4 separate regions of the Homo sapiens genome follow, and regions 1, 2 and 3 are each linked to region 4. Evidence: fine-mapped expression QTL. A gene starts in region 4. Each other region holds a variant in brackets. All regions are shown on one strand. Distances are between the middles of the regions.

Region 1 (7,960 bases), 160 kb after region 4:
AATAGATACTTCTATCCTTCTAGAGCATAGGATAATACTATCCCTATTTCACAAAAAGGAAACTGAGGCTCATTAGAGTTAAGAAATACGCCAAGTCATGCCCTTGGAAAGTCACAATGCCCAGCTTCGAACATTTCACAACCGAGGGCAGTCTTCAAACATTTAGACTCACCCACACCCAGGAGACTTGGCTGGAAAGAGTGCCATACTCAGAAGCGTGGCACGCCATCTCCTATATTTCACACACACCAGCTTGGCCAATGACAAACTCTGATGTCTCTTTCAATGCAAAGGCCAAAGCTGTTATCTGTGCCTTGGGAAGGCTTAAAAGCACAGCAATTTGGGCAGGCTGCAGATGACTTCTCCTGTGGTAGCTTCAACAGCGACTAGCGGCTAGAGGCCCTGCCCCAGGCAGCTTGGGCTGGGGCTCTGGGGAACGCTGTGAGAAAGATGTAGTCACTTGGAAGCCTGCCCAGAAAGTGGCCCTGCATTTTTTAGTCAGCCTCTTAAAATGAAAACCTCACTCTCTCCAGACAAAGCAAGCGGTGTTTTTGTAAACAAGGCAAATGCAATCCAGAGTTGTCCATTTGTAGTCTTTGAACTGTGCCGTGATTGCAGTCACCACTACATCATCTTTGTGATTTTTAAAGCTAAAGTGGATCAGTCATGGTAAACATTATTCACTGTGCTGTATCAATTGTTTCTTAGAGATGGAGACAGGTTAAGATGTGTTCCTTAACCTGGGGACACTAGACTGAAGAATGATCCATACATTTGGACAGGGGCTATGACTCACTTCTGCCATTTATTTATCCATTCACTCACTCATTCAAATAAGTGGCAGGCACTATCTTGGAATCTGGGGATAGAAGTAGGGATAAGACCAATAATCCCTGCCCTTGGGGAGCCCCCATTCTCTGCACTGACGAGAACCGATCCCTCCCCTGTCCCCATCCCCTCTCCCCATTGCAGTCCCTTCCACCCTAGAAGCTCAATGTTGTCTGGAGGCCTCCCAGTTATCTGAGATTTTCTTAGCCCTCACCTTCTCCTCCAGGGCTCTGGAAGCAAACCAAGACTTGGGACAAGGATTCAGGAAACTTGGGTTCACTATTCGTTCTTTTTCAGATACATTATGGCGACCTCATAGGCTGTGGTAGACCACAGTGGCATTTGTAATGTAGCAAAGGGGTGCAGTGACAAGAACAAAAACTCTGTATCCACAAACCCCGGGTTCAGATCCCCTCTCCAGCACTTACTAGCCATGTACTTTAATTTGGCTCTTCTGGTTGAAAGGAACTGACACTCACTAACAGACACTCACTAACATTAGCTCAAAGGATGGAGGATTTCTTTTAAGACTACCCTGGAACTGAAACTGTGGAAAAGCAGGAAAGGGGCAGAATGTGGCCCCAGAGAAGGTGCTCTGCACCAACTTGGCTGCTCTCTGCACATGATCCTTTCTGTCCCACCCCCACTGACTCCATTTCCTTCCACTGCATTAAAGCCGCTGCTTGCTTTCCACTGCCCCACAGCTTCAGCTCTAATAGGCCGGCCCATCATGGCCTCCTCAGCCTCTCTTCACAACACTCATTTAACAACTTTCCATTGTGCCTTTCAGCCCTAGACTCCTACCAACTTATTGACTCTTTCCATGTTTCCCAATTCAAATTCCTAAGGGAGAATCTGATTGGCCAAGTTCATCTTTTCAAATCAGGCCTTAACCAGGATTGGCTGGCGTTCGGTCAGGCGCCCACCCTGGGGCCCAACAGATGTGGTGAGGAAAGTCATGAGTGACCCACCACTACCACTTCAGGAGGAGCTATACTTGAGGCAGGAAATATTTTTGACTTTGTGTGCTTAAAAGCAAGTTCCTTAACTTATTTGAACCTCAGTTTCATCTATAAAATGGGCTATTCATTTTGCAAGGCTGTTGTGAAAAGCAGAGATAATATGTGTAACATACCTGGTACTTAATAAACTGTAGCTATTATTACTGCTATTATTATTCACTATTATATATAATATGATATAATAATAGATAATATAGTTACCCACAGAAACAAGCAAATTGACTCATTTTTATTTATTTTTTATTTATTTATTTATTTTGAGATGGAGTCTCACTCTTTCTCCCAGGTTGGAGTGCAGTGGTGCGATCTCACCTCACTGCCACATCCGTCTCCTGGGTTCAAGTAATTCTCCTGCCTCAGCCTCCCAAGTAGCTGGGACTACAGGTATGAACCACCACACCTGGCTGCAAATTGACTTATGAATGGACTTTTAGCACACAACCCAAATGGATAAATGGATTGGCAAGTGGGATTAGCTTACATTAATGATTCATTACCTTTTAATATATGTGGGCAATGAACCTTTTTCACATGACCTAAAATAAATTACTATTTGGAGATCTTGTATGTGCTACTCACAAAGTTTATTAAAGAGGAGATAAGGTGTTGCCATTTTCCAAGAATGGTGTGTTCTTGATGGTGTGAAATCTGGTAATTAAAACAGAGATAGGGAACGTTGTAAAGCAACAATAGTTACTCAAAGGGGAAGAAAAGGTTTATATGCACCGTGCATTTTGTTCTTAATTATTATGGCCTAGAAGTAGGAAAGAAGGAGAAACAAAGAGATGGAAGGCAGAGAGAATTCCTAAATGTGCGAATGTGTTTGTGTTTGCATGTGTGCACAGGTGACTATCTTTAACAGCAGTTGATATGGAGAAGAGCTATTTCTTGTTATGTATAAAGCAATGTGCTCAGAATGGGGAGAATGAAAAAATAAATGAGCCACAGCCTTGCTGTCCAGAACATTGCTTTCTAAAGCACAGCAGGGTACTTCTTGAGTTGATCAAGCTCTGCATTCAGGAAGACTTTGGTTAAGGCCCAGCTACTACCAACCAGCCCGGTGACCTGAGACAATGTTTTTTCAGTCCAAACACACCAGATTACAATTAAAAAAAAACTCCTTCTCTGAGCCAGAACAAATCATTTGCTTTATAAAAAATTCTATGCTCCTTAGGTTCTGTCTCTTCCATATACTAGAGGCAGATCAACTTCAGGACAATGTGAGTAAGATAGAGGCTTCTGGGAGGGGCAGGAACTGAACTAACTTCACCATTTGCCAAAGCTGAGATGCTTCCAGGGATCCTCTGGTGTAGACCCTACATAAAACTAAGGCCTGATAACATAAGGTAATAGCTAAATCTTTGAGTACCTACTTAGTGCCATGTATCCATCGATATACTAAGCACTTTAAATGTATTTGCTCATTTAATTTGTACAACACCTCTGTGAGGTAGATATTATCTTCACTGAACCAGTCTTCAAGGTGACACCAAGTGACAGCAAGAAGCAACAGCAGTGGTAGATCCCTCAAACTCAGTTACCTTTTTGGCTCCCTGTGAGCTGAGGAAACCCTCAGGATTTTTAGACTATAGGGATGGAAAAACCTCGAAAAGGGGATACATGATTTCCTGATAGAGAAGGGGTAACTCAAACAATTAACTGAAGAAATAAAAGCATGTAACCATATTTTTGGCCAGACTTAATGAAGTAGGTCAAATGACTTGCTTGTAGTTATTTGCAAGCCTCAGGTTAGACTTTAAATCAGCCAGATCACATTTTGTAGTGTTTATTAGCACATGATACATGTTTAATATGATGCTAGGGGTTTGGAGGATAGAGAAATGGAGGAGAGAGATAAGAAAGGCAGGAACAGAATTGGCTTTGCAGCAGCAATCTTCTAAAGTGAAGAATGACCGTTTTAGAATGGGAGAAGGTATTCGTTTGAAAGGGCATGTTCATGTTCATGTTCAGTTTTCAATAACGTCAGATTTGGGGAAAACCACTACTCTTTTGAGCATGAAAATCATAGAAACTAAGCTTCTGAACTTGTGAAGATCACAGAAGACAGACTATGCCCTTCTAGAGAGCCATATTCCAAATTTGGGGTTTGGTTGGCACATGAGATTTACATATATATATATATATATATATATATATATATATAACTTTAAATTCTAGGGTACATGTGCACAACGTGTTTAGCAGAAGACAGCAAGGATCATAAAGGGTTAAGAAGCCCTGGCCCAGTGCCCTGGACCTCACATATGCAAGGGCCTTGCCAGACCACAGACTTGGAGCTAGGTTGCAATAAAACTTCTTTCTACCTAATTGAAGATTTCAAAATACTCAGTCATTACAAGGTGAATATGTTACCCATTTGTCACATAAGTTCTGGTTATATAAACTATGCCATAGAATCATACCAAAGCCACATTTCATCAGGCTTTTAAAGAAGACATTATATGTTGAGCATTTCATGTATAGAATCTCTTCAGTTGGACATTGTCAAATATTTACTTAAAACAAAAGCTATTAGGTACTGGACAATGGACAATGCAAATATTACTTAAGTGCAAAAAAATGGTTGCTAGAACCTGCACTTATGCAATGTACATCGCTGACTGACAACTGGACCAATCAGACAACAAGCTAATCAACCAATCAGAACTTAGCACAGTACTGCTGATGGTGATAGGCCAACTGCAGAGTTGCTTGTTTAAGCTAAGCTATACTTTTTTTTTTTTTTTTTTTTTTGAGACAGAGTCTCGCTCTGTCGCCCAGGCTGGAGTGCAGTGGCGCAATCTGCTCACTGCAAGCTCCACTTCCCGGGTTCA[T/C]GCCATTCTCCTGCCTCAGCCTCCCAAGTAGCTGGGACTACAGGAGCCCGCCACCACACCCGGCTAATTTTTTGTATTTTTAGTAGAGACAGGGTTTCACTGTGTTAACCAGGATGGTCTTGATCTCCTGACCTCGTGATCCGCCCGCCTTGGCCTCCCAAAGTGCTGGGATTACAGGCATGAGCCACCGCGCCCGGCCAAGCTAAGCTATTCTTAACTCCAGTGGGGCAATCCCGTCAGACAGGCCTGAGTTCAAATCCTACCTCCATTATTTAATATCCCTTTCCTATTTTTACATTTGATTTTTAGCAAATTGCTGGTTCTTAACCTCTCAAGCCTTAGTATCCTTGTTTATGAAAGGAGGATAAGCTGTTGTGAGGATTAACTAAAAGAATGTGTGGGTAATAAATATCTTCCCTTTTGCCTCTCCAGAATCCACTCTCTTTCTACCCTTCTCTATGCTTTTCCTCTACTCTTTTCTGTATGGCTTCCCCAATGGACTGCACCAATGGGATCTCTGCCTCCTGCTTCCAGTTGGTTGGGAAGCGTGCAAAACAGTGGAGGTCAGGACAAGAGTGAGCTCAGGGTATTTGTCTCCCTGGCTTCCTCTCTGCTAGGAAGCAGTGTGTTGGTTCTGTCCTTTTACCAAAATTCACAGCTTCTGTGAGGGGGTCCTCTTTATAGAGCTGTCTGTGTGAGGTTCTGGTAACCACACTCACCCCTTGCCCCTACCAGCCTGGGGGATGGCAATCCCCCATTGTTTCTAGGCCAAGGATACTATACTATTCCTTGAGGTTTCCTTAAACCCTGCCCATACCTTTGTAAGTATTACCTTTATTAAACTCTCTTTCAATTTCACCTTTAGAGTGAGCCATCTGTGTCTTGACAGAGCCTTGGTTAATACCGTGTCTATAACAGTTTGTCAGGCTCAAACATTAGCTAGAAAATGCTGATGAGGTATGTTAGAAGCATAGAAATCAATTGAAAAGTGAATTACCCAGAGTAACTAAAGTTATAACCATCTCAAGAATGTCTCTGGTAGAAAAGAATTTTACAAAGACAGAACATTTTAATCAGGATATGCAAAAAAAGATAAGAACAGGACTTCAGAAAGAATCTACTTCTTCCAGGTAGGCCTTTTGCTGTGAAACTCATCAGCTTTAGAACCACAAATTCAGAATTACAAAAAGACATCACAAAATCTAATCCAGCAGCCTCATACTGTTAGGTTTATATTTACTTGTTTCTGAACATATTTTTAAAACCTTATTTATTGTGGAGTCAGAATATTTTGTCTTTTGAAGATAGAGAGGACAGAAAAAAATAGATAATATAGTTAACCATGGGCCCAACACACACGAATCACTGGATTCTTAGACTGTGTCACTGATTATGTAGACTCTTAAATCAGGCAGCTGGTGCAAAGTCATCACCAATAAATGTCACTGGAGAGAAGAAAAAAGAGGCCCAGTATGTGGTTCAGCACCAAGAAATATCCATTTTTTTCATTTAGTTATGTATGGAATGTACATGTTATAAGTAACAGGCACCATTGAAAACAGCAAGACAGATACGTATGTACTGACAGGGAATTATATCTAAGACATTTTGTTGAATGCAAAAAGCAAGTCACAAAGCAATATGTATAATATGTATGTATACATGCTATCTAGTATGATGTCATTTATAGTAAAAAGAGAGAGAAGGGGGAAGAGAGAGAAAAAGAAGAAAAGAGAGAGGTAATTGTGTAGAAATAGTTTAGGGACAGGCGCGGTGGCTCATGCCTGTAATCCCAGCACTTTGGGAGGCCAAGGCAGGTGGATCGCCTGAGGTCAGGAGTTCAAGACCAGCCTGGCCAACATGGTGAAACCCTATTTCTACTAAAAATACAAAAATTAGCCGGGTCTGATGGCACACACCTGTAATCCCAGCTACTTGGAAGGCTGAGGCAGGAGAATTGCTTGAACTTGGGAGGCGGAGGTTGCAGTGAGCTGAGATCACGCCACTGCACTCCAGCCTGGGTGACAAGAGTGAAACTCTGTCTCAAAAAAACAGAAAAAAGAAAAGAAAAAGAAATAGTTTAGAACTGTGCTAATATGGTAGCCATTAGTCACATGGGGCTATTTAAATTCAAATTATAATTAATTAAAATTAAATAAAATTAAAAGTAGTTTGTCATTCACATTAGCCACATTTCAGGTGCTCAATAACCCATGTGACTACTGGGTACTATACTGGGCAATGCAGATATAGAACATTTCTATCATCACAGAAAGTTCTACTGGACAGCACTGGACTTGAATGATACACATTGAATTGTTAATTGGGGTTACCTCTTGGGAAGGAGATAATATTTTGAGAGAAGAGATGAAGAGATTTCATTGTTTATTCCATATATGTCTGTCATTTTGTTTTATTTTTAAAATGAGAATGCATTCATGCAATGTTCATAATGCAAAAATAAATTTAAAGAAATATCTCCTCTCCTTTAAATTCAGAGATGCAGAAAATTTAATCAAGGCTCAGGTCTCCCAAATGTAGCAGGGATGGGGGAGGGAGGTCTATATTAAGAAAAGAGGAGTATTTTGAAAAATAAAAACTATTATCCAGAAATTAACTGTTAAATGATATGATTTGCAGGTATATGGAATATTTAAAACTCATTTGAGCTTTAAAAAATTTTTAAATTACTTTCATGGTATCTACCCGTAATTCATTTTTCTAACATCAGACAAACACTTTTTGAGTCCTTGCTGTGTGCCAGGCACTGTTCTAGCTTCTGAGGATACAACAGGGAACAAAACAAAACAAAAAATTTTGCCCTCATAACACTTAAAAATAATAAACAAGCAACAAAAAAGAACATAAAACATGTAGTATTTTAGTTAAAGGGTGATTAAGTGTTATAGAAAAAAATAAGGCAAGGAAAGGGAATAGGGAGTGTTGGGGGTATCACTGTAAATAGGATAGTCAGAGAAGTTGATGTATGTGTAAATATATAAAGGATCAAGTGAGCCATGTGGAGAAAGAGCATTCCTGGCAGAGAAAACAGTAAGGGCCAAGGCCATGAGGCATGAACATGCCTGGCTTCTTCCAGGAATAACTAGAAGGCCAGTATGCTTGGAGGAAGCGAGCAAAAAAGAAAAGATGTAGCCAGAGGTGAGACCAGAAGAAAGGAGATGAGAGGCACCCAGTCGTGTGAGCTTTTTAGGACACTGTAAAGACTGGCTTTCACTCTAGGGAGATGGGAGCCATCAGAGCGTTTCGTTTTGTTTC
Region 2 (7,960 bases), 21 kb after region 4:
CAGGTTCAAGTGATTCTCCTGCCTTAGCCTCCCAAGTATCTGGGATAACAGGCACCCATCACCACGCCTGGCTAATTTTTTGTATTTTTAGTAGAAATGGGGTTTCACCATGTTGTCCAAGCTGGTCTCGAACTCCTGACCTCAAGTAATCTGCCCGCCTTGGCCTCTCAAAGTGCTGGGATTACAAGCAAGATTGAGCTTTTAAACCTACGCTCTTTTCAGTTTAACATAGTATACCATTGTCCCCAGTGCAATTCTTTATAGCAAATATAGTCTCTATTAGCAATGCTGAGGTTTTGTCTAAATTTATTCTGTTACACAATCAGGAAATGGTATAATCTAATGCTTATCTAGTTTTATTATTTCAGAACTATCAGATTGATACCTACTCCACTTACTTACAATGAAATAATTCTACTTCTGAAAACCACTACTTGTTAGTCTGCATTATCATCTCTGGGAATATGAGAAGCAGTATATACAGACTTGTACTCCAGTCTTAATTTCTGATGCCTACCAGCAGTGTGAGCCTGGGCAAATCACTTAATCCCACTACACTTCAGTGTCCTTATCTACAAAATAGAAATGCTAGTGGCTAATCATAGGATGGTTGCATTGATGAGATTGAGAACGTATGGCATAGTGCATAACACATGGTAGGTGCTTGGTAGATGTTGGTTATGAATTTACTATGAGAAGTTAGTGACACAGCATTTCCTTGATGAAGTCAGCTTTCTGCTAAGAATAAAAGCTGGGTAGGGAGCTCTTAACCTTGAATGTTAATTATCTTCAAGTTTATTGGCTGAAGGTCTCAGCTGTACAAAACTGATCATTTTCCAAGAAACATAGCACTTTCAGCTCTTTTGTGCTTTGAGAGTGACTTGCTTTGGATTCCCTTTGATCACTGTGATGGCTAACTAAATGATTTGCCTCAGTTAACCTCAAATATGAGTACAGTGTGACCATTAGCTATTCCTGCTTCCATGACAACAGGGCATCCTGTAACTCACCAATTTACCGTTAGGACTAGATTCTAAACTCCCTTCTGGAATTAGGTTGATATGGATGCATGGCGGCTTTGGCTGCATAGTGCTTGTTACTCACATGCTCTAGCTCGTCACAGCTTTATTTGTGACATCTGTTCTGAACACATCATGTCTCTTCCACTCTCTGGCCTGACACACCATATTGACTGTTACTGCCACTGTATTGTCTTCCTACCTGCCTTTTGGCTCTTCTCATGATTTTAAGGATTGAATACCCTTAAACAAATATATAGAATGAAGTTGGCCTGTAAGAGGGATTTACCGTTACCTGCAAATGTTATCTTGAACCTCTGAATTTTATTTGCTATGTTAAGTTTGTAACTAAACTTACTGGGTGTTTTAATTTTCAGTTGCGATCCGAGGTTTTTTTGTGTGTGTGTATGTGACACAGGCTCTCACTCTGTCACCTAGGCTGGAGTGCAGTGGCGCAATCTTGGCTCTCTGCAGCCTTGACCTCCTGGGCTCAAGCGATCCTTGCACCTCTCAGCCTCCGAGTACCTGGGACTACAGGTGCACACTGCCACATCCGGCTAATTTGTATATTTTTTGTAGAGACGGGGTTTCACCATATGGCCCAGGCTGGTCTCGAACTCCTGAGCTCAAGTGATCCTCCCGCCCCGGCCTACCACTGGGATTACAGGTGTGAGCCACCGCACCCAGCCAGGAAATTTTTTGTTGTTGTTGAGGCAAAGTCTCACTGTGTCGCCCAGGCTGGAGTGCAGTGGCACGATCTCGGCTCACTGCAACCTCCACCTCCCAGGTTCAAGCGATTTTCATGCCTCAGCCTCCCAAGTAGCTGGGACTACAGGCACGTGCCACCATAGCTGGCTAATTTGTTTGTATTTTTAGTAGAGATGGGGTTTCGCCATGTTGCCCAGGCTGATCTCGAACATCTGAGCTCAAGTGATCCTCCCACCTTGGCTTCCCACTGGGATTACAGGTGTGAGCCACCATGCCCAGCCAGGAAATATTTATTGAATACCTACAATGTACCAGGTATTGTACTAATGGACTCTTCAATCTTTTGAGGAATCATGATACAGGACATAGAACTCATAGAACTCAGTGACTGAGGCAGTGGCAGAGGGCATTGCCCAAGCACAGGGCACAACTTCTGGGCCCACAGAGAAATCCATTCACAGCTTGCTTTGGCTTTGTTATACAGAGCAGCAGTTTTCTCACTAGTCTGTGCAGATATATGTTTCAAAAGAGCAAACAAACAGGATTTCTAAAGAGAGGGGATCAAGGGACTACTACCTTAATTAAGAACTCTATCCCAATCACCTTCGTACCCCCTTTTCCTATCAGAAGAACAAAAATCATTACATGAAGGGTACCACGGGTGTCAGACCCCATTAGGAAGCTCTGCATATAGTAGCATATTTTGTATGAGATTTTTGTATTTTTTTAAAGAATAGAATAGTTCTAGTTATAGGAAGATTTTTATGAGTTACTTTGCCGTATTTGCTTTATTTTTCCCTCTCCATCCATCCCTATTCCTCTCTCTCTCTCTCTCTCTCACATACACATGCTTTATGCTTTTTTGCTGAACCATTTGAGAATAAATTGCAGACATCATGCCTCTTTACCCCTAGATACTTAAGTATGTATGTCCTCAGCTTAAGGGTATTCTCCTAATAACCATGATACAGTTATTACCCTTGGGGAATTTATCATTGATATAAAAATAAAATGGAACATCTAAATTTCCCTTAATGGGGCCAGGCGCTATGGCTCACACCTGTAATCCCAGCACTTTGAGAGGCTCAGGCTGGTGGATCACCTGAGGTCAGCAGTTCGAGACCAGCCTGGCCAACATGGTGAAACCCTGTGTCTACTAAAAATACAAAAATTAGCCAGGCGCGGTGGTGCACATCTGTAATCCCAGCTACTCGGGAGGCTGAAATAGGAGAATCTCTTGAACCTGGGAGGCGGAGGTTGCAGTGAGCTGGGATCGTGCCTCTGCACTCCAGCCTGGGCGACAGAGCAAGACTCCATCTCAAAAAAGTAAAACAAAAAAATAAATAAATAAATTTCTTGTAATGGCTGCCAGTTCCTATATTGGACAGTTCTCAGGTCTAGAACACTCTCAGAAGGCACTGTAGCAGAGGAGGGTGCTGAGCATAGTGCAGCAGAGCCCGGGGTGGGGGGATAGGGGACTCCTACCTCAGCAAC[G/A]CAGCAGACCAGTAGCGGGCAGGAGTGGCAGGAAGGCTGGCTGGGTGCCAACAGGAGAATGAACTAAAAGTCTGCAGACAGAAGGGCCACCCTCTGTTCTGACCTCTAGAACATTAACAGCAGGCAGTTATCCCTATCGGCAAGGTAAAGGACAAAAGGGGGTTCTTCTCTAAAGACACTGATGGAACTATTTCAGGAGAATCAGGGAAGCTGGTGTGGTATTAGCGCCCACTGAAAAGCCCCAGTGTAATCAGGAATTCAGGGAGCTCTCTCCGCCAAGAGCCCCACAGGGCTCCCAGTCTTTAGCCTGCTTCCTTCCCAAACCTGACTGAACAACCAAAGATCACCACACGTCTGAGGGAAGCCTACAGCGAGAAAGAGACTAACAAAGACAGAAAAATGGACATTAACCCCCAAAAGAGACAAAATCTGACTGGCCATAAAAGAGTGCTTTAAAATATAATTTAGCAATAAATCATCTACAACCCCCCATTAACATCCCAGAGAAGATCGCATTTTCCAAAGATGGCCATGAGGATACTTTTCTACAGTGTGACCTTGGCACCCCTCTGTCAGGAGCAGGAGTCGAAATTTCCTTCTGGAGTCTGGGCAGGCCCTGGCTACTTAGCCTAATTGATTGTGGCAGACTAGGCCAGCTGTGTGACTTCTGAGCCTGGGTCATAAAAGGCCATGCGGCTGCTGTCTTTTCACTGAAGTGGTGGAAGGATCCAACTAGCCCGAAGCTGCCGTGATGTGAGGGAGCCCAGGAAGAGGCCACCCCAAGCTGCTCAGATGGGCAGTCCTAGTTGTGCAGTTGTCTGTCCCAAGCATCAGACTTAGGAGTGAAGGGGCCCTCGGATGTTTCCAGACCCAAGATCTAGTCACCCTGCAGCCTTCGGGTTTTCCCAGCTGAAGCCCAGATAAGCCATCCCTTCTGCGTGCTGTCTAAATTCCTGACTCACAGCATCTGTGAGTATCATAATATGGACTTTGGACTGAAAGAAGTCGTGTAATATCTAGATGTTTTGGGGCACTGAATTTGATAGGGAATAAAGTGTGCGTGAAATCCCCAGTATTTGGCTCTTTGTCTCTGAAGTTCTGACTCACTCTTTTTGTTTTTGTTTTTTTGAAATGGGGTGTCACTCTGTCACCTGGGCTGGAGTGCAGTGGCACAATCACAGCTCACTGCAGCCTCGACCTCCTGGCTCAAGCGATCCTCCTGCCTCAGTCTCCTAAGTAGCTGGAACTATAGTCACGCACCACCATGCCCAGATGATTTTTTATTTTTTTGTGGAGACTGGGTCTCCCTATGTTGCCTGGGCTGGTCTTGAACTCTTGGACTCAAGCAGTCCTCTTGCCTCAGCCTCCCAAAGTGCTGGGATTACAGGCATAATTGGCTCACTGTTATTAATAACCAAAACATGGTCTGGCCTAGAGTGGAGGCAGCCCCAAGTTTGGCAGATTCCAAATCTGCAGCCTATTTTGATCCTTCTTAAATTCAGAAATAAATGTTCTTGAACAAAGGAAAACTCTTAAGCTCTTAAGGCAGTGAGAAACTGCTCATGAAACAAAACAAACATTTTAAAAGTAGAAACTAAGTTTTTAAAAAAGTGATTCTTTGAAGGACATTCACAACCATTTGGTAGGTCTCCATTCACATGTCAGATTGTTTCTTCTGAAGGACTATTCAATTAATCATTGTTTAACCCTAGTAAATCAAAAAATTAATGACTTATTCTAAAATTCAGTGTTTTCAACAGATTGAAATCTTATAACTACAACTAGAGAAAAGAAGTTGAAGAGCTCACCTGCACACATGGACATAAACATGGGGACAACAGACACTGTAAACTACTAGACGGAGGGGGAAGTGGGCGCGGGTTGAAAAACTACCTATTGGGTACTGTGCACACTGCCTAGGTGCAACATACACATGGAACAAACCTGCGCATGTACCCCCTGTATCTGAAATAAAAGTTGAAAATTTTTTTTAAAAAGCTTAAAATAATATGTTCTCAGTTATATTTTACCAATTTAAACATGGCTAATGGGAAAAGTACATTGCCAACTCAGACATTTAGTTGGTGATATTAATCGAAAGCATTTAGTTGATGATATTAATAAAAATTATCAGAATGAGCTGGATCATTCTGTTGGGGTTTTTTGGTGCCTTGCGGGTAATTTTTCCATGTATTGCTCTTTATCTCATTATTGCCACTCCCAAACCACCCCCCAACCCCCACCAACTGCTAAAGCTGAACAATGGACAAAGAAAGCCTTCAAGTAATCCAGACAGAGGAGACTCTACATTTTAGGAGGCATGGTCTCTGTTGATTGAAGACAGTACAAAATATGTCCTCAGCCTCTGCTTTAATTAAAAGGTACTTACTATCAATCACTTGAACCTAGGAGGCGGAGGTGGCAGTGAGCCAAGATTGTGCCATTGCACTCCAGCCTGGGCAACAAGAGCAAAACTCCATCTCAAAAAAAAAAAAAAAAAAAAAAAAAAGACACTTATTATCAGGTGACTTGATTAATTGAAGAAATAATTATTTTTTCTGCCGCCTGTAAATTAGTCGAAAAGAGGATTAAAACGAAGCCAGGGTTATCAGCCACTATGTAAACCAGGTATAAAGAAATATGTCTGTGAGCTCCTGCTCTCAGGTGGCTAGCTAAACGCTCTTGGCTACCTCCTGGTCCCACCATAGGGAAGGCTCCCTGCATTACATTGAAAGTCATTTATATTTCTGTGTCTATTCACCCTAGGTCTTGGTGAATGTGAAGCTATATGGAACCTTTCTAGACAAAGCAAATCATACCTTTTGCAAATATAGTAATTGTCTCCAGCTTCCCAATAAAAGGACAAAGTATAAAAAACAAACAGAGGCCAGGCGCAGTGGCTCACGCCTGTAATCCTAGAACTTTGGGAAGCTGAGGCAGGCGGATCATCTGAGGTCAGGAGTTCGAGACCAACCTGGCCAACATGGTGAAACCCCGTCTCTACTAAAAATACAAAAATTAGCCGGGTGTGGTGGTGCATGCCTGTAATCCCAGCTACTCAGGAGGCTGAGGCAGGAGAATCGCTTGAACTCAGGAGGTGGAGGTTGCCGCCACTTGGTGAGCCAAGATTGCGCCACTGCACTCCAGCCTGGGCAACAGAGAGAGACTCTGTCTCAAAAACAAACAAACAAACCAGAAACAAAGGAGAATGAAAGGATCGTCAAACTTAGGAGAAAAACAGAAGAAATGCACATGAGTGTATTTGAGTCTAATGACCTGTTTGCATCCACTAAGTCAGAGTTTTCCAAGCCCCCTCACCTGCTCCCTTTGTCATCTTTGAACTGATACCAGGGAAAAACTTAATTGGTAAATTTGAATAAGATGAAGTATATTGAGAAATGCAGAATAAAAATAGAAAGTCAAAATTAAGGAATGTAGAGAAGCCAAGTAAGTAGGGAAAAAATGAAGTCAAATAATTGGAAAGCAGAACTGGAAAATACACAATATACCAGAAGACTTATCAAAACAGAACCCTCTGGCGAGGACATTCATTTAAAACCAAAATGTTTTTCTTGGTAAGTTTATTATTTAAAAAAAAATGGTTGTTAGAACCTTTTCATTTAAACTGAGTATCCGGCATTAATACATAGGAAAGATACTTTCAATGTACGTGAAGAAAGCACAGAAAGGTTATAAAAATCAGGCATTTCATACTTATTTTTAGGCTAACTAATTAACTAAAAAAGACTTATCCTCCTATTTAAGCTGATATATAATTAAGGTGTCTGAGTACAAAGAATTTGTCCCTAAACCTAATGTAGAATGTAAGAGACAAAACCTGAAATTTTCCAACTACTCTTTTTAAAAAATACGAACTTCTGGACTGAGTGTGGTGGCTCATGCCTGTCATCCCAGCACTTTGGGAGGCTGAGGCGGGCAGGTCACTTAAGGTCAGGAGTTGGAGACCAGCTAGTCCAACATGGTGAAACCTCATCTCTACTAAAAATACAAAAATTAGCTGGGCGTGGTGATGGGCACCTGTAATCCCAGCTACTCAGGAGGCTGAGGCAGGAGAATCGTTTGAACCCAGGAGGCGTAGGTTGCAGTGAGCCGAGATCACACCACTGCACTTCAGCCTGGGCAACAGAGTGGGACTCTGTCTCAAAAAAAAAAAAAAAAAAGAAAAAAAAAGAAATCAACAACAAACAAAGAAAAAAACAAACTTCTGAAAGCATTATCTATTATTTGAAAAAATCATTGAGAAGCTACCATAGGCGAGGCACTATAATATGTGCTATGGGGGATAGAGAGACAGATAAAAGTTTCTTTCCACATGAGTTTTATAACAGGCTGATAATCCAAGGAAGCTTGAAGAAAATGCTTCCTGAAATTTGGTTCTCTTAGACCATGCCTAGTAGTTGAGTTTTAACTATTGCAGAATCATCAGATGAGCCCAGGGAATGGGTTCTCAGGGCTGACCAAGCAGTAACTGACAGTTCGATTGTGTATCCCATGGCCTCAGACTATTCTGTTTGAGCATCATCAGCGTCATTAGTGATTGCTATTTAATTAGCCCCTCTTCTAAGTTTTAAGAATATGTGACTGTTAAATATTGTGGTTTATTAAGTTTTTATTTATAGAGATGGGGGTCTTGCCACATTGCCCAGGCTGGTCTCGAACTCCTGGCCTCACATGATCTTCCCATCTCAGCCTCCCAAGTAGCTAGGATTACGGGCGTG
Region 3 (7,960 bases), 76 kb after region 4:
CTTAGTGTTCTATTGCCAAAACTCATTAATCTTTGAAAGCTTTTCTTGCCCAAGATGATATCCTAGATTCATCTTATACCTTCTGTGCCTGTGTCCTAGAATCAACTGTTTCCCTCAAGGAGTCTTGTTTCTTTTCTTTTCTTTTTTTTTTTTTTTTTTGAGACAGAGTCTCACTCTGTCACCCAGGTTGGAGTGCAGTGGCGCAATCTCAGCTCACTGCAGCTCTACCTCCTGGGTTCAAGCGATTCTCATGTCTCAGCCTCCCAAGTAGCTGGGACTACAGGCATGAGCCACCACGCCTGGCTATTTTTTTTTTTTTTTTTTTTTTGTATTTTTAGTAGAGTTGGGGTTTCGCCATGTTGGCCAGGCTGGTCTCGAACTCCTGACCTCAGGTGATCTGCCTGCCTTGGCCTCCCAAAGTGCTGGGATTACAGGCATAAGCCACTGCACCCAGCCCTGTTTCTTTTTAATCAGTATTAGAGATGCTAATCTGATAATTGGGGATGCTTGTTATACCTTTTTTAGGCCCTTTTCCTTGACAGACAGAGCTATAAAATATAGCTATATTTAAAATATATTTTAAATCATAAGTTCATATTGATATTTTATTCTATTTTAACATTGTAATGTTTCTCCCCAATATATTTTAATTGTATATATTTCTTATTATCCTGAAAACCTTGATTTTTAACATCTTTAACACAATGCAACAGAAAGATATTTGTACACAAATACAGTTTATATAGCTTTGCAGTATTGTACCATTTAGTAGCGTTGGTCTTCTCTGACAAGTGTTATAAATGATATCCATATGGATGTTTATTTTTTTCTATGGAAGTGTCATGGTGGACTGCTACGCAATATTGCTGGACTGGCCACTCATCTCAAATGATGAAGTTTAGAGAAGTTTGGTTTGTGGAAACAAACATACTTACTCTCACCATTCCCAGCCAAGTTTAAGCTAAATCAGCTTGAAATACCTGGATCATATCAATTTCTGTTGATTCCATTTTCAGTCTGTATGTAAGTCAAATAGAATGTTGAGCATCGATGTGACCAGTTGATTCAAACTGCTCAAACTATTGCTCTGATATGTGGAGTAATTTGAGTAGTGCAGAAGCCATCTTTAGAAAAAGGTTTGGTTGTAAAAAGGTGGCTTTAATTGAATATTATTTTAAAGGCAATTTTTAAACTAAGGTTTAAACTAAGGTTTAAATTTTAAACTGAAGGTTGTATGCTGATTATTAGTCTTAACTTCTAATATATTATTAGGTGAACAAATTTAAGCAGAAAGCAGTTCTTAAAATTTTAAAATGCTTAGCCTGACAGTTAAAATTGTTAAACTATACAAATAATCGGTAGAGATTTGGGGAAAGACTTTAGTAAGTATGGTAAATTCACTAGGTATTTATACATGAGAGGTTCTAAGAAAATTTATTTTCAAAACAGTTTCTAAGTGAGAGTTTTATTGAGATTAATTCACACAACATAAAATTCACCCTTTACAAATATATAATTCTGGCCGGGCACAGTAGCTCACGCCTGTAATCCCAGCACTTTGGGAGGCCATGGCGGGTGGATCACTTGAGGTCAGAAGTTCAAGACCAGCCTGGACAACATGGCAAAACCCCGTCTCTATTAAAAATACAAAAATTAGCCGGGCGGTGGTGGCGGGTGCCTGTAATCCCAGCTACTTGGGAGGCTGAGGCACGAGACAAACCCAGGAGGCATAGGCAGCAGTGAGCCAAGATCACGCCACTGCACTCCAGCCTGGGCGACAGAGCGAGACTCCATCTCAATAATAAATAAATAAATAAAAGTATACAATTCCATATTTTTTAGTATATTCACAGAGTTGTGCAGCCCTTCCCACTAACTTTAGCATATTTTCATCACCCCAAAAAGAAACCTCATAGTTTTTAGCAGTCACTCTATATTTCTAACCAGAGTTTTCACTGACAGTAAAGAACCGTTTTAAAGTATATATAAGTAATTAAATGGTCATTCTATTTCTGTAGTAATTGTAGAAAATAATTCTGAGATATGGCAAGGGTTTTTGAATTATCACTATAATGAAATACTCTAAAAGTCCTGGTCAAAACAGAGGAGGTTGTACTCACAAACTCACTATGGATATTCTCATTATTTTCTTTGTAGAGACAAGATCAAGACTAATAGAACTTTCTAGAGGACTGAATGCTGTGGTCCTCTCTGTGAAGAAAGATTGCCTTCTGCAAGTCAAACAGAGAGAACTGCTTTCTCCCACCTGCTCTGAGCGTGGCATCACAGTTATTCCTAGTGCTTAAATGTGTATTTTCTCTCTACCACCTGGACTTTCCCAAAGAGTTTTTCCTGTAGCTACTCCAGATCTTCCACTAAAGTAGTAACTTTTTAATGACATCTTGCTGTGGTGTGATTGATGCCTGTCACCGAAGAGCACAGAGCCTCCTTACAGCTCTTGTGCCCTCGTACTCTCCATCTTGTTATCATAGCATCTGATGTCTTCAGTCCTTCCAGGATTCTGTGCGCCTTTCCCATTCCAGATACAGCAGATCGTACTGTTGCTCCTTGTGACCAAATACCATATTTGTCCCAAACCTCCACCTAGGGCCCTGGGACCCTGAAAGTGGAAGACATCAGGTGGCCATGCCCTGATGATTTAGTCCCAGAGCCCTCCGTCTCTCCCGTGCCTCCCTCCGCCACTCTATGATTTAGACTTTTGCCTTCTTCCATCTGATCGGATTCTCATTGTGAGATGTGGTGACTTTCATGTTAGATCTTCTTCATTGATGCCTTGGTTTTATTTTAAAATTCATTTGTATATGTCTGTTGATTAAAGCATTCGAAATGTTATCTTAGAATTTTTCACCCAACTGCTTGGTTTCAAAGATCTTAAGTGAAAAACTGCCTCCTGGTCAATACCAAATTTGTACAGAGTGTGAAGTGGAGTTTTTATGCTTCTGTCAAACTTCCATCCATCTAATACTGTACCTGTGTCATATTTTATTCCTTTGTAGTCTTCTAAGGAATTGGAAGTTTCTGTATGATGCGCTTTACTAGTTGTAAAATAGACTATC[A/T]GAGGGAAAAGGCCTCTCTAGTTTATTTTTGAAAAATGCTCCAGGTCTTAATAATTTTCATTTTCATTCATCTTAGTTTTAGAATTGTCACCTCAGTCTGATTTTCACAATCCTTTTTGCTAAAAGTTGGAAGTGGGAATTAGCAGACGATTTGGGATAAGGAAAGAGGAATGATGTTATATTTACCCTTAGGAATAGAAGTGACCGAAGAATCCGGATTGAAACCAGCATCCTATATACAGCTCCACAGGATGTGCTTCTCTTCATGGTAATTTTCCATATATATCATCTACTTTGATTTCTGCCCCGTTTTAATGTCCATATAAATGTTTCAGTCCAATTTGTAAGTGTTGAGTCCACTGATGTAGAAGTTCTGACTTGTAAACCATTCATCCTGCTTTAGTCATATGATAGTACCGATGCAATTAGCTCCTCTCCCACCACCGTGGGGGATTTCTCCCTGAGATGAGGTGTGCTTTGACCAGCTGCATGTGGCTTGATTGCATTCCTGTTTCTCTTAGTTCCACTGGATCTTGTTTTCTTTTATTTCGTTATATTACCTGAGCTCAGGGTAGTTCCGTTCATCTTTAGAAAGAGCTCATCTCTTCCATCCTTAGAAGGATCTCATCAGAGAACTCATATGTAATCAATCAGGTAAAAGAAATACTGATGTACTTCTGAGAGACTGGTGAGAGGTGGGTCATAGGAAGCCCATAGGTCTGAGGACCGAGTCAGTGTCTTGGGGATGGGGCTGTTCCATATGATTATTTTTGTGTGGCATAAAAGATGTAAAAAAAAAAAAAAATGGTCCTTTACATGCAAAGACCCTAGCTTCCTTTTTTTTTTTTTTTTTTTTTTTTTTTTTTTTTTTTTTGAGACACAGTTTCACTCTGTCCCCTAGGCTGGAGTGCAGTGGCACCATCTCGGCTCACTGCAACCTCCGCCTCCCAGGTTCAAGCAATTCTTGTGCCTCAGCCTCCCGAATAGCTGGGATTACAGGCATGCACCACCACGCCCAGCTAGTTTTTGTATTTTTTTGTAGAGACGGGGTTTCACCATGTTGGCCAGGCTGGTCTCGAACTCCTGACCTCAAGTGACCTACCCACCTCAGCCTCCCATAGTGCTGGGATTACAGGTTCGAGCCACTGCGCCCAGCCGACCCTAGCTTCCTTATAAACATGAGATAATATCTTCCTAGGCCTCAATTTCCAACGATACTCCTTTATGCTTTCAAGTGTGATACACTGTAGGAGAGAGGAGGCAGCAGTTTAGGGGGTGCTGCCTACTGCCTGACTCTGACAGCGTTTCTCTTGTTTGAGGAAGGCCCATCGATCACCACATCCTCACAAGCAGTACCATGTAAGGGGCCGAATATGGATAATATGGTGTAGAAAAATCTCATCACATTCTTCCCTTTACAAGTGTTTTTCAAAAGTAAAGATTGATTTCAGTGTCTTCATGACTTAATCGGTAGTTCTTTACTAGCACGCTTTTTGGCTTACTCACATCCATCTGACCCCAGTACAACCTTGCTTCTCCTGTCTTTGTTTTCTTCATTAAGAATTTATCTTTAACCCTAAAGCAACTGCAAGAAGAGTTTCAGGAACATCTGTGTTCTTCTGGCTTACTAGCCTCTTTACCCAAGTATTCATTTATCCTGTTTGTCAACTGTACATGATTCTTTTAATTTAGGCAGAGAATCTGGCTGTTTACTGGGTTTGCCTATAAGCAAATGGTCAGATTTCCCCCATATAGGTTGTAACACAAATAGACATGGACCCTTTTTCAGCTAAATTCTTTCCCATTCCTCTGTACTGCTCTTTCATTTACTCTATTTTATTTTAAGTGGGGACTGTGTCTATTTAAAATAGTGCCTGACACATAGTAGGTGCTTAATAAACAATGTTAATAAATAATATTAAAATAATGAATAATATTCATAAATAGTAGGTGAATCAAAGATAGAAAACTGTCAGACATTTTCCTTGGGTGGTAGGGCAACATCTTTCTAAGTTCTTAAACCATCCTTGTCTCTAAATTAAAAATATGGAAGTTCAAGTCAGGAGCTGTGAAAGTGCTGAATTTCCTTTTTATAGTGCTAAGAGATGACTTTAAAATGTAGAGAAATGCAAGGAAGTGGAGGGATAGATCCGCAGGAGCCATCTCTTCCTTTTTTTGTCTCTGAATATCTGATTTTGGCTCCTGAATACAGAATTCTTTCCATCCAAACAGTGTGACATAGTTTTACAGCCTTGTGTATAGATTCCAAAGACCTTTTGCATACAGCATGCCATTTGATCCTTACAATGCCATGAGCTGGACTACACAGGTATATCGGTTTTTTGTATGAATCCCAAAGCAATTAAGGAGTTTGCCAAGGTGGCATGGTAAGTCAATGGAAGGGCCAAAGCAAGCACTTGGGTGCTTGGAACAGTACGCCAGGTGATTTGTATTATCTCTTTTGAGGAATTTCTTCAGTATACTATTCCTCAAAGGGTAAGCTCTAAACCCCAAATTATCTGTAGAGCAAGTTAATTCCGTTCAGGAGAGGGTTTCTTTTGTGTGTTTCCATTTTGGCATAGTTAGAGGAGATAATCAGATGGATTTGGCAGCTTTTACCAAAAATGACAGGCAACTTAAAGTGGATAGCTGTAGGTAATTACTAGAGTTATTTAGACTTAATTCTGTGTCTGAATGAATTCAGTGCTTACTGCCAGCCCTTTCATACAAAGACTCCACATTTGAGAGCTGATGTTTTTATCTTTTTTGCAGACTGGATTACAGCTTCGGTTGGGTTTTCTTGCATATTTACAAATGTATTCCTGTTGCTGTTACTTACGAACAATAACTTGGCTGGCTATCGGATTCTTGGATCACAGCCTTTTTCCTTGAATTCTCTGGAGACAGGATGTTATTGCTACTTTATGGTTGTCCATATCTGGTGGTGCTGACAGGTCTGAGTCCTGATGGATTTTTCTTCCCCTTTTGTAGATGACCTGATTGTTTGCCCTGGATACTTGAATTCTTTGTTTATCCTTGAAATTTAGTAACTTCGTTGGAGTATATCTCAGGATTGACTGTTGTCTGTTGCCTTTTTCTGGAATGCAGTGAGCATTAGATATGGTCATTTCAAGCCTCACTGCGTTTTGTATCAGTTTAGTCTGTTCTCTTCTTGAAAACTTCATTTTTATATTGGCTCTCTGTCATCTGTCCTTCACAGTTATCTTTCCTTAGATGGCACTCATCTCATCTTTCTTCATTCATGCTGTATGATTTTTTTCTCAAGTCTTATCCTCCATTTCACTGACTGACTCAGTTTTCTGTACTGTTGATTCTAGGGCTTGTTCCTTGTAATGTGGCTTCCACTTCTGTTACAGTTTTATTTATTTTATTTTATTTTATTTTATTTTTTTCAAGATAGTGTCTCACTCTGTCACCCAGGCTGGAGTGCAGTGGTGTGATCTCTGCTCACTGCAACCTCCGCCTCCCGGGTTCAAGCAATTCTTCTGCCTCAGCCTCCTAAGTAGCTGGGACTACAGGCTTATGCCACCATGCCTGGCTAATTTTTGTATTTTAGTAGAGACAGGGTTTCACCATGTTGCCCAGGCTGGTCTCAAACTCCCGACCTCAAGTGATCCACCAGTCTCAGCCTCCCAAAGTTCTTGGATTATAGGTGTGAGCCACCGCGCCCAGCCTAGTTTCATTTTTTATCTCTTTCTTTCCTGAGCTCATTATGTTGTCCTCTTTGATTGCGTATTTCTTCCAGTGCTGAACAATTTTGTCTACAGTTTTAGTGGTTTATGAGCTCATTCTTTTTCTAGAGTGTATTTATCTATCCTTTGCATCTTTCATTCCTTTTCTTGTATTGTTTTGCTTTTATCTTGATGCACAAGTATCATGATGACCCCTTCTGCTTATTATTTATCTTTGCATGGTACCAGTTTTACCTGTCCAAGAAGAGTGTGGGTAAATCCTCCTTGACTCCTTCTCTTTTGAGCGAGACATGTTTGAAGGATAACCTTAGCACTTGAACCCTAAGGCTAGCTCTTGATGGGTTGTAGTGGTGGAGGGTGTTTTTGGTTTTCATTCTGTTTGGATTTGGGGGAATAAGGAGTGACACGAAGCCTCCTTGGAACATGTTGTCTGTGAGTGCCTTCCATAGACACTGTTGAATCCTCTGCCCTGGGGGTGGCCGGGTCCCATTGGGAGACAGATCCTCTTTGCATTTCCCCATTCCCACTAGTCGTCATCCTAGCAGGAACATGGTGGGTTTGTACTTCTGCCCTCCTGGATTCCATGTAGCCCACATTTGTGAGATCGGCTCCAGAGTTGGTTTCTCTCCTCTGGTCCTGCTTCTCGCCGCTCTTCCTCTTTTGGATACCGGAGGGGATGAACACACATGGTTCATCTGAGATCTCAACCGCCTGTCCTCGTTTTTCTGGAAACATGCACGCGCAGAGTGTGCCCAGCTTCTCCCGACTGTTGCCAGTCCTGTTTTGCCAAGTTAACAAATGATCAGTAGAGTCTTGGGAATCTTCTCATTAACTGCCCAGCAGTTGTGGCTGCTGGAGACTCGGAGAAATGCCTGGCAAATGCAAGAACTCTTCTTCGATTCATCCCCAACTTGGTTGTATCTGTCAGACATTGCCCTGGAGTCCGTGGTATGGAGTTGTAGCTTTTACTAGTTTCATTATAGACAGCTTGTTGTTCAACTTTTGGATGTGTGGGTCAGAGGGCAGGAGCACTTATATAAACATGCATTTATTCTGCCATCTTTTCAGCAGTCCAGATGCTTAAACATTGACTTTGAAGCTAATGTCCTTCATAATCTACATTTGAGCAAACAGAAGGAAGCAATATTGCCAGCAAGAAAGGACGATTAA
Region 4 (7,960 bases):
TTCATCATCTCAAACATTTACCATTTCCTTGTGTTGGGAACTTCAATATTCTCCTTCTAACTATTTGAAACTATATAATACATTGTTTTTAACTATAGTCACCCTACAGTGCTATAGAACACTAGAACTTATTCCTCTTGTATAGCTATAATTTTGTATCCTTTAACAAATCTCTCCCTATCCTAATATCCTTTAAAAATTTTTTAATTGACACATAATAATTGTACTTATTTATGGGGTATATAGTGACATTTTGATACATACAATGTAGAGTGGTCAAATCAGGATGATTAGCATATCCATCACCTCAAACATTTGTCATTACTAATATCCTTTTTTTCTGTTCCAGAATCCCAACCAGGATAGTACATTATATTTAGTTGTAATATCTCCTTAGGCTCTTCTTGGCTAAGTGACAGTTTCTCAGGCTTTCCTTGTTTTGAATGCCCTTGATAGTTTTGAGGAGTACTGGTCAGGCATTTTGTAGGACCCCAGTCTCTGAAGTGAGATCTCATCACTTCTGGCCACACTCTTCTTTGTTAGAAGCATGAGCTAAGTCTAACCCACATTCAAGTGGAAAGGAATTAAGCTCCATCTCTTGAGGAATATCAAAGAATTTGTGGCCATATCTTTAAGACCTTTATTGCTTGCTAAAACGCAGATCTGCTTCAGTAGGGCTGCAGTGGGGCCCAAGAGTTTGCATTTCTTTTCTTTTTCTTTTTCTTTTTTTAAGACGGAGTTTCGCTCTTGTTGCCCAGCCTGGAGTGCAATGGTGCAATCTCGGCTCACTGTAACCTCCACCTCCCAGGTTCAAGCAATTCTCCTGCCTCAGCCTCCCGAGTAGCTGGGATTACAGGCATGTGTCACTATGCCCTGCTAATTTTGTATTTTTAGTAGAGATGGGGTTTCTCCATTTTGGTCAGGCTGGTCTCCAACTCCCGACCTCAGGTGATCCACCCGCCTCAGCCTCCCAAAGTGCTGGGATTACAGGCAAGAGCTACCGCACCTGGCCTAATCTTTTTTTTTTTTGAGACAGAGTCTTGCTCTGTGGCCCAGGCTGGAGTGCAATGGCGCAATCTCAGCTCACTGCAACCCCCGCCTCCCAGGTTCAAGTGATTCTCCTGCCTCAGCCTCCCGAGTAGCTGGAATTACAGGTGTGCGCCACTACGCCCAGCTAATTTTTGTATTTTTAGTAGAGATGCGGTTTCACCATGTTAGCCAGGCTGGTCTCGATCTCCTGACCTCGTGATCCACCCACCTCAGACTCCCAAAGTGCTGGGATTACACGCGTGAGCCACCGCGCCCGGCCTCTTTTTTTTTTTTTTTTTTTTTTTTGAGACTGGGTCTCACTTTGTCACCCAGGCTGGTGTGCTGTGGTGCAATCTTGGCTCACTGCAGCCTCCACTTCCTGAGCTCAAGCTATCCGCCCATCTCAGCCCCCCAAGTAACTGGGACTATAGGAGCGCACCACCTTGCCCTGCTAATATTTTTGTATTTTTAGTAGAGACGGAGTTTTGCCATGTTGCCCAGGCTGGTCTCCAACTCCTGAGCTCAAGCAACCTGCCCGACTCTGCCTCCCAAAGTGCTAGGATTAGACGCCCCAGGAGTTTGCATTTCTAACAAGTTCTCAGGTGATGCTGCTGCCGCAGGTCCAGGGATTTCACTTTTGAAAGCCACTGGGAGTGGGGTCTGCACTAGACCTTGGTGTGTACAAGGAGTTGAAAAAAGTTCATCAAGATCTATTTATCAACACACTGGTGTCACTTCTGGCCTCTGCAAGTTATCATGAAAGTATTAGGTAAAAATATATGCATTGCTGTACACAGGAGGTACAGTACCTTGTATTTATATTACATGTGGTTTATTTCATTTGACTGTCACAAATGCCAGGGAGATAAATCAGGTATCTTAATCTGACATAAAAATAAGCGTGACGCAGACAGGCTAGGTGACCTTAGCCTTGTCTAAGCACATTTTACATTATATAGGGCTCTTTCATATTGTTCCCAACTTCTAGGACTTTGTCACCTTTTGGAAAAGCAGAAATAAAATTAGGCACATGAAAGTTTAAATAATCAAATCAACAGAATGGATTTTAAGTAGCATTTTGTGCAGTGGAAAAGGAAGAAGTGAAACAAGCGATTTGCAAGCTCAGAAAGATCAGCGCTTTGTTGCTTAGGCTGAGAAAATCTCCCTCTCCACAAACATCCAGCTTCTTCCTGCTCACTGACAACTGCCACCAATTATCGCTCCACTTCCAGGTAGCACCTGAAAGTCACTTTAGGAACCACAGGCCACTGGTCTTCTCTTTGTCTGCCCATGCACACCAACTGGATTACTTAGCTCTTCTGGTAAAGCTCCTGGTTAAATAAGTTGTTAGTATGTCTTTTTTAATGCTTTGATTTAATTTGAATGGAAAAGACATGGTAGTCTACATACTTCTACCAAGATGAAGATGACCAAGATGTTCTTGAAAATCCAAAAGTCTAGAAGACCACTGGATGTCTTTTTTTTTGAGATGGAGTCTTGCTCTGTCGCCCAGGCTGGAGTGCAGTGGCACGATCTCGGCTCACTGCAAGCTCCGCCTCCCAGGTTCATGCCATTCTCCTGCCCCAGCCTCCTGAGTAGCTGGGGCTACAGGGGCCCGCCACCACGCCCGGCTAATTTTTCGTACTTTTAGTAGAGCTGGGGTTTCACCACGTTAGCCAGGATGGTCTCGGTTTCCTGACCTCGTGATCCGCCCGCCTCGGCCTCCCAAAGTGCTGGGATTACAGGCGTGAGCCACCGCACCTGGCCGAGGTCTTTTACTGTGTATGTTACTTTTCTTTACATTCAGAGTAGAGATGCAACTATTTTATTAAGCAAAGAATTGGCTGCATAAACGTCCACTGAAGGCACAAAAGCTAAATAGCTACCCACCAATAATCTCATTCAGTGAGAAAACTAGTCCAATCAGAGACCCAAGGAGTGGCTTCCAGTCACATTTGTACCTTTCCTTAAAGAACATTCTTCCTGTCCTTTTAGTTACATATGTTTATGTTTACATATTGCCAAAAAAAAAAAAAAAGCCAAGGTTTGGTGGAAATGGCTAAAGTAAGCTGTACTTTATTCACTCATAATAGGAAATAACAATTTCATATACTGAGCCCTGAGTTCAAGTTCACTTTTTTTTTTTTTTGAGAGGGGGGTCTGGGTATGTTGCCTAGGCAGATCTTGAACTTTTGGGCTCACGTGATCCTCCCACCTCCGCCTGCAGGGTCGTTGGGACTATAGGTGCATGTCACCATGCCAGGCTCTCAAGTTCACTTGAGATAAAGAATACCCAACACTGTGTAAGCATAGACTCCTGTCCAAAAGTGGTGGTGAAGCGTGAAGGGGGCTGTCCTATGGTGGTGGTGTAGAGAAGGGGTATGAAAGAAAGTGCCAGTGACCTTACATTTGATCCTTTCCAATGGTAGTAGTGGGGTGGGGGGGTATGAAACAGAGTCAGTGACCTTGCAATTATCCTGTCCACTGGCATTGGGGAGGTAGGGGGTGTTATTGACCCTTGACCTCACAATGGATCCCGTCCAACGGTGGTGGTGGGGGGACATGAAATGCAATCAGTCACTTAATCTTGTGCGGGAAGGAGGGGAAAGGAACCACGAAAAAGAGAATCAGCGAACTAACAATCCAGTCCAAAGGTGTTCCAAAGGTGTTCTCTTGGGAGTCAGGCAGGGAGGTGGGGGTGGGGCTGGGCCACGAAACAGAGTCAGTCTAGTTAGGCTGTAAAATCTAAGTGTCAGGATGCAGCGAACGGCAAGTCCTCCTCCCGGAAAAGGCGCCTGCGGTTGAGAAGGGTCTTGAGCAGCGCGGAGGATCGGATTCCGGGCTCCTGGCCTCTTCCCGGTCCGCGGGCACCTCGGCTACCTTTCGGCAGCGGAGAACCCAGCCAGAGGCGGAGCTGAAAGCGGCTGCACTTGCTGGGCTGGGCTGAGTCCCATGAGCCAGGGAGGGGGGTCTCTGGCGCCGCGCCCGGACAAAACACAAACGTCACAGAGGCAGCGGCGGCCAATCAGTGGAGGGCGCGCGCGGCCGCGTGCCCCTCGCGCTCCTCGCCTCCCCTCGCGCGCCGCGTACGTGCAGCAACCGACTCCGCCCAGCGAGGCGGAGCCTAGGGAAGCCGCGGGCGGCCCGCCGCTGTCCTGGAGCTGCTGCTGCTGCTGCGGCGGCTGCACCGGCGGCGCCGAGGCCGAGATCGAGGCCGGGGTGCGCGCTTCGCAAACGTGCCCTATCCGTGCGGCTTGGCTGCGCCAGCCCTTGCGGCCACCCGGGCGTCTAGGCGGGTCTGTGCGCCGCCCGGGCGAGGATGCGGCTGTTCCGGTGGCTGCTGAAGCAGCCGGTGCCCAAGCAGATCGAGCGCTACTCGCGCTTTTCGCCGTCGCCGCTCTCCATCAAACAATTCCTGGACTTCGGTGAGTACGGGGCCAAGGGTCCCCATGGGCCCGGGGCCGCCGCCATTCGGGCTGCCACCCCGGATCTCCGCAGCTTCGGGGTAAAGTCTGTGGGAACCGCAGGCGGGGCTAGGGAATATCCGGGGGGCTCTCCTGGGGCTCGGATTTCGGGGCGCGGAGGGGCAGGGCCTGGCCCCCTCGCACCCAGCCTGGGACTTACCCGGAGACACAGAAACGGCGTCTCATTGCAGGACCCTCATCGCAGGCGAGACTCCCCAAACCTGCGGTCGTTAGCTTCAAATCTGCTTGACACAAACCTCACAGCCCTTAAAACTTCAGAACGAGATGTGGGTGGCTTTTTAATGTTTTTATTTTTAGAATTTTTTTTTTTTGGTTGGGTAAGAACTGTTTAGAAATACCTTGAGGTTGAATAAATTATGCAATGGCATTTTGTTCCTTTTCTGCTCTAAGGTGTTGCTGTGTGGCTGGAGTGGCAGGACTCGAACTGTTGTCTTCATCAGGTTATGTTAAATCAGTTAGAGGCCTGGCCTGCAGACGCCTTAGATGCTTGGGAAGAGCGGACGTCTGGGATCCTAGCATCAGAGCAGGGTCTAATACAACTCTGGCTTTAGTGCCAGCACCTTTCGTTTCTCTTCTCCATTGGTGTCCCACCCACATTCTCCCTGTCCGGTGGGCTGGTGGGCGGCTTTCACGGATTGAGGTGGGACCAAAGAAGATTCGGGTTCCCAGCCTGCCTCAGGCCTAGCTGAGATGGGAATAGATTCCACCACCTTCTGTTAACTGAATCATGTTTCCCCAGAAAACGAAGGAGCTGGTTGTGAAACACCTAAAAGTAAAACGCATGCATTGAGGTATCAGAATGGAACTCAGCATCCCTGGAGGAAAATCAAATCCAGCAGCAAAGATGTTCTAAGCTCTCCAGGGGAAATCGTAGGGTGTCTGTTCATTTAATGAATTTTATGTAAATGTCAAGGGTGTCAGTGATAGTGTCAGTTGGGCATAAAAACTAAAGTGCAGAGTAGGTAGAACATTTGAGGAAGACCTGATATGCAAAAAGTGATGTCCATACTTTTTTTTTTTTAAAAGCTAGGATAGGAAGAGAGGAATAGGTTAAAGTTGAGACCAAATTAAAATTTTAGAAGCCAATTTGCCAGAGAATGATGATGAAAGTCAAAGTTCAATGACACGTTGATTTCTGCATCTTCAAACTTCACTCCCAAAAGCTATTGGTAGTTTTACTTACTATCTCGAGAATTGTAGAGGTTTGAGGCAGTTTCTGACTTTAGAGTTTAGAAAATGTTGCTATTGCTATAAATATAGGCAAGTTTTCCATCTTTATGGTTTAGGGAAGATTCTGAAGGTATCAGCCTTTCATTAGTGTAAACTGAAACAGGATAATTCACAATAAAAGGAACAAAAGGAATCCAGAAACTCCCAGTTCTTTCCACCCTCAAAGTTTAAGTGATAGCTCCAATAGCCAGCCAAAATTTTGGTTAGTTGATTTCCATAGCAGCTAGTGTCTACCCGTGTTAATAGGTATTTTGGTAAGGATGTTATGTGAGTAGGAAAACCACAGTGGAGGATAGTGTTATCATGGAAAACCTGTGAGGCCAGTATCTGGAAACAAATGTTCTAATTCTGGCTCTGCCACTAGCTCAGAATGTGGCCTTGACTAAGTGACCAAACCTCACTTGGGGTTCATTTTCCTCATTAATAAAATGAGTAGATTGTATCAGGCGATCTTTAAAAGCACAGCTCACCACTATACGATTGTGATTTCAAAGGAAGAGGCATGAACTTTCTAAAAGAAAACTACCAAATCTTTTGATAGATATTTCCTATAAAAGTCTTCTGACCTATTTTGGGAGGGGTGGAGGGATTCACTAAGGTCATGAGAGAAGCATAATAATTTAAGGTTTTCCTTATAAGGAAGCGCACAGAAGTGCTAGATATAGTTGTAGTGGAATTTGCTAGAAGTGACAAGGCTAGTTTGTAACACCCAGAGATGAATCAGGTGCTAATCAGCCTATCTTTAATGACAGGACAACTAAAAGACGGGAGTTGTTGCAAAAAGGCCATCTCTACTTCTACTTTTCTCTTAGTTCTGTCTCTTGATAGCAGTTCTATTTTGGCAATTGATGTGGGAGTTGGAGAATTCAGAATGGGTGTGGGATATTTTTAAGGTGAGGAGAGAGGAGGAGTGAAGAGGCTTCATGCCCCTGTATGATTAGAGAAAACTGCAGGAGAGGGCCAACTCAGGCACTTAAAGCACCAGGTAGTGGGCAGTGGATAAGTGAATGAAGCCAACGAGTTGAGGACCGTGATAAATTCCTGGTATATAGCTAGCTCCAAAGGGGCAGCTGATTGGCACCAATTCAGTATATTTCAAGAGAACTTTGGCATAAACAAAATAGATGGATGGATCAAGTTGGCCCACAGGCTGCTAGTTTATGAACTTGATGCCTTTCTCCATGGGTACTTTACAAATGGGACGTACATTTTGACTAGAGTAACTAGACAGGGACCAGAGAAAGGAGATACACAGGATATACACAATTTGTTACAACCTTGATAAATAGGCTTTCTTATGTGGATGTACTGCACATCAGTAAATAAGGAGATTATTTGCTATGTTCAAAAGTGGAGGCTAAAACTTGTTGTTACTTCAGAAGCTGTGCTTTTATTTTAAAGCAGGGGTTCCTGAGCCTCAGCACTCTTGCCATTTCAGGCCAGGTAATTTTGGTAGGAGCTGTCTTGTGCACTGTGGGAAGTTGAGCTACATCCCTGGCCTCTACCCACTAGATGCCATGAGCACCTCCCACTCCAAGTCGTGACAACCAAACATGTCTCCAGTCATTGCCAAATGTCCCCTGGGGGAGCAAAATGTCCCCTGGACTTCTGTTGAATCACTGTTTGGAAGTGTTTACTTGAGTGGTTTTCAGGCCAGGGCCTCATACTCTGAATTTTTGTTGTAAATGGTCTGGGGGTGCTGGGGGTGGAGAGCAGAGCACTGGTATTTTTAGGAGATCCCCCTGTCATTCTAAAGCATATCCAGGGTTAAGCACCATTAATCAGATGATCTTCTGTCTGATCTGCTGGCCCCCTTTCATCTATGTGCAGTATTTTTCTCTATGCTTTTTAAAATAATGAAAGTTTCTTGAACTCCATCTTGACTTGAAATATAGCCTGCCACACAGTTAGCAAATATAGCAAGAATAACAAGTGTTCTAAATGGATTTTTAATTTATTATGGCAATAGTACATTCCAAAGGGTGGCATTTTTTAAAATGAGATTTTTCTTTTGGGCCTAAGATTACAGTCACATGGTTCCAAATTCAGAGGGTTCAAAAGGACACAGAAAAGCCTGCTTCCCACTTGTGCCCACTGGCCTCCCCTTTTTTCGCATAAATGGCAGTTTATAGCTTTGTCTGTTCCTTGTTTTTTGAGCTTAATACCTTAGAGACAGATTTTTGTATATCTGTACCTGCAGAACTTTGTTTTTCTTT

Direction of the effects. Alleles are on the strand shown, and positions count from the first base shown. SD is a standard deviation of normalised expression in the study named. Not every link is listed here.
For the expression in subcutaneous fat of the gene that starts at base 4,179 in region 4, G is the low allele of the variant in region 2 and A is the other (small effect, 0.12 SD a copy in GTEx).

What was found. PIP is the estimated chance that this variant, and not a neighbour inherited with it, causes the effect.
Region 1: its variant is the best candidate, but not a certain one, in a credible set for the expression of PDK3 in T cells (TOPMed, PIP 0.59).
Region 2: its variant is the best candidate, but not a certain one, in a credible set for the expression of PDK3 in subcutaneous fat (GTEx, PIP 0.90).
Region 3: its variant is the best candidate, but not a certain one, in a credible set for the expression of PDK3 in whole blood (TOPMed, PIP 0.75).

Annotation. Positions count from the first base shown.
Region 1 is chrX:24,619,386-24,627,345 of GRCh38, forward strand. All of the region lies in intron 1 of PCYT1B (phosphate cytidylyltransferase 1B, choline), which reads right to left. Among named protein-coding and RNA genes, the nearest start is that of PCYT1B, 24 kb to the right of the region's middle. The variant T/C (reference allele first, on the strand shown) is at 4,685.
Region 2 is chrX:24,482,301-24,490,260 of GRCh38, forward strand. The region is part of intron 1 of PDK3 (pyruvate dehydrogenase kinase 3); the gene reads left to right. Among named protein-coding and RNA genes, the nearest start is that of PDK3, 21 kb to the left of the region's middle. The variant G/A (reference allele first, on the strand shown) is at 3,222.
Region 3 is chrX:24,536,977-24,544,936 of GRCh38, forward strand. It overlaps a transcript of PDK3 not described here. Among named protein-coding and RNA genes, the nearest start is that of PDK3, 76 kb to the left of the region's middle. The variant A/T (reference allele first, on the strand shown) is at 3,078.
Region 4 is chrX:24,461,108-24,469,067 of GRCh38, forward strand. PDK3 (pyruvate dehydrogenase kinase 3) reads left to right here and starts at 4,179. Exons shown (of 11, transcript NM_005391.5): 1 at 4,179-4,454. The coding sequence starts at 4,349. RefSeq lists a silencer at 3,920-4,239.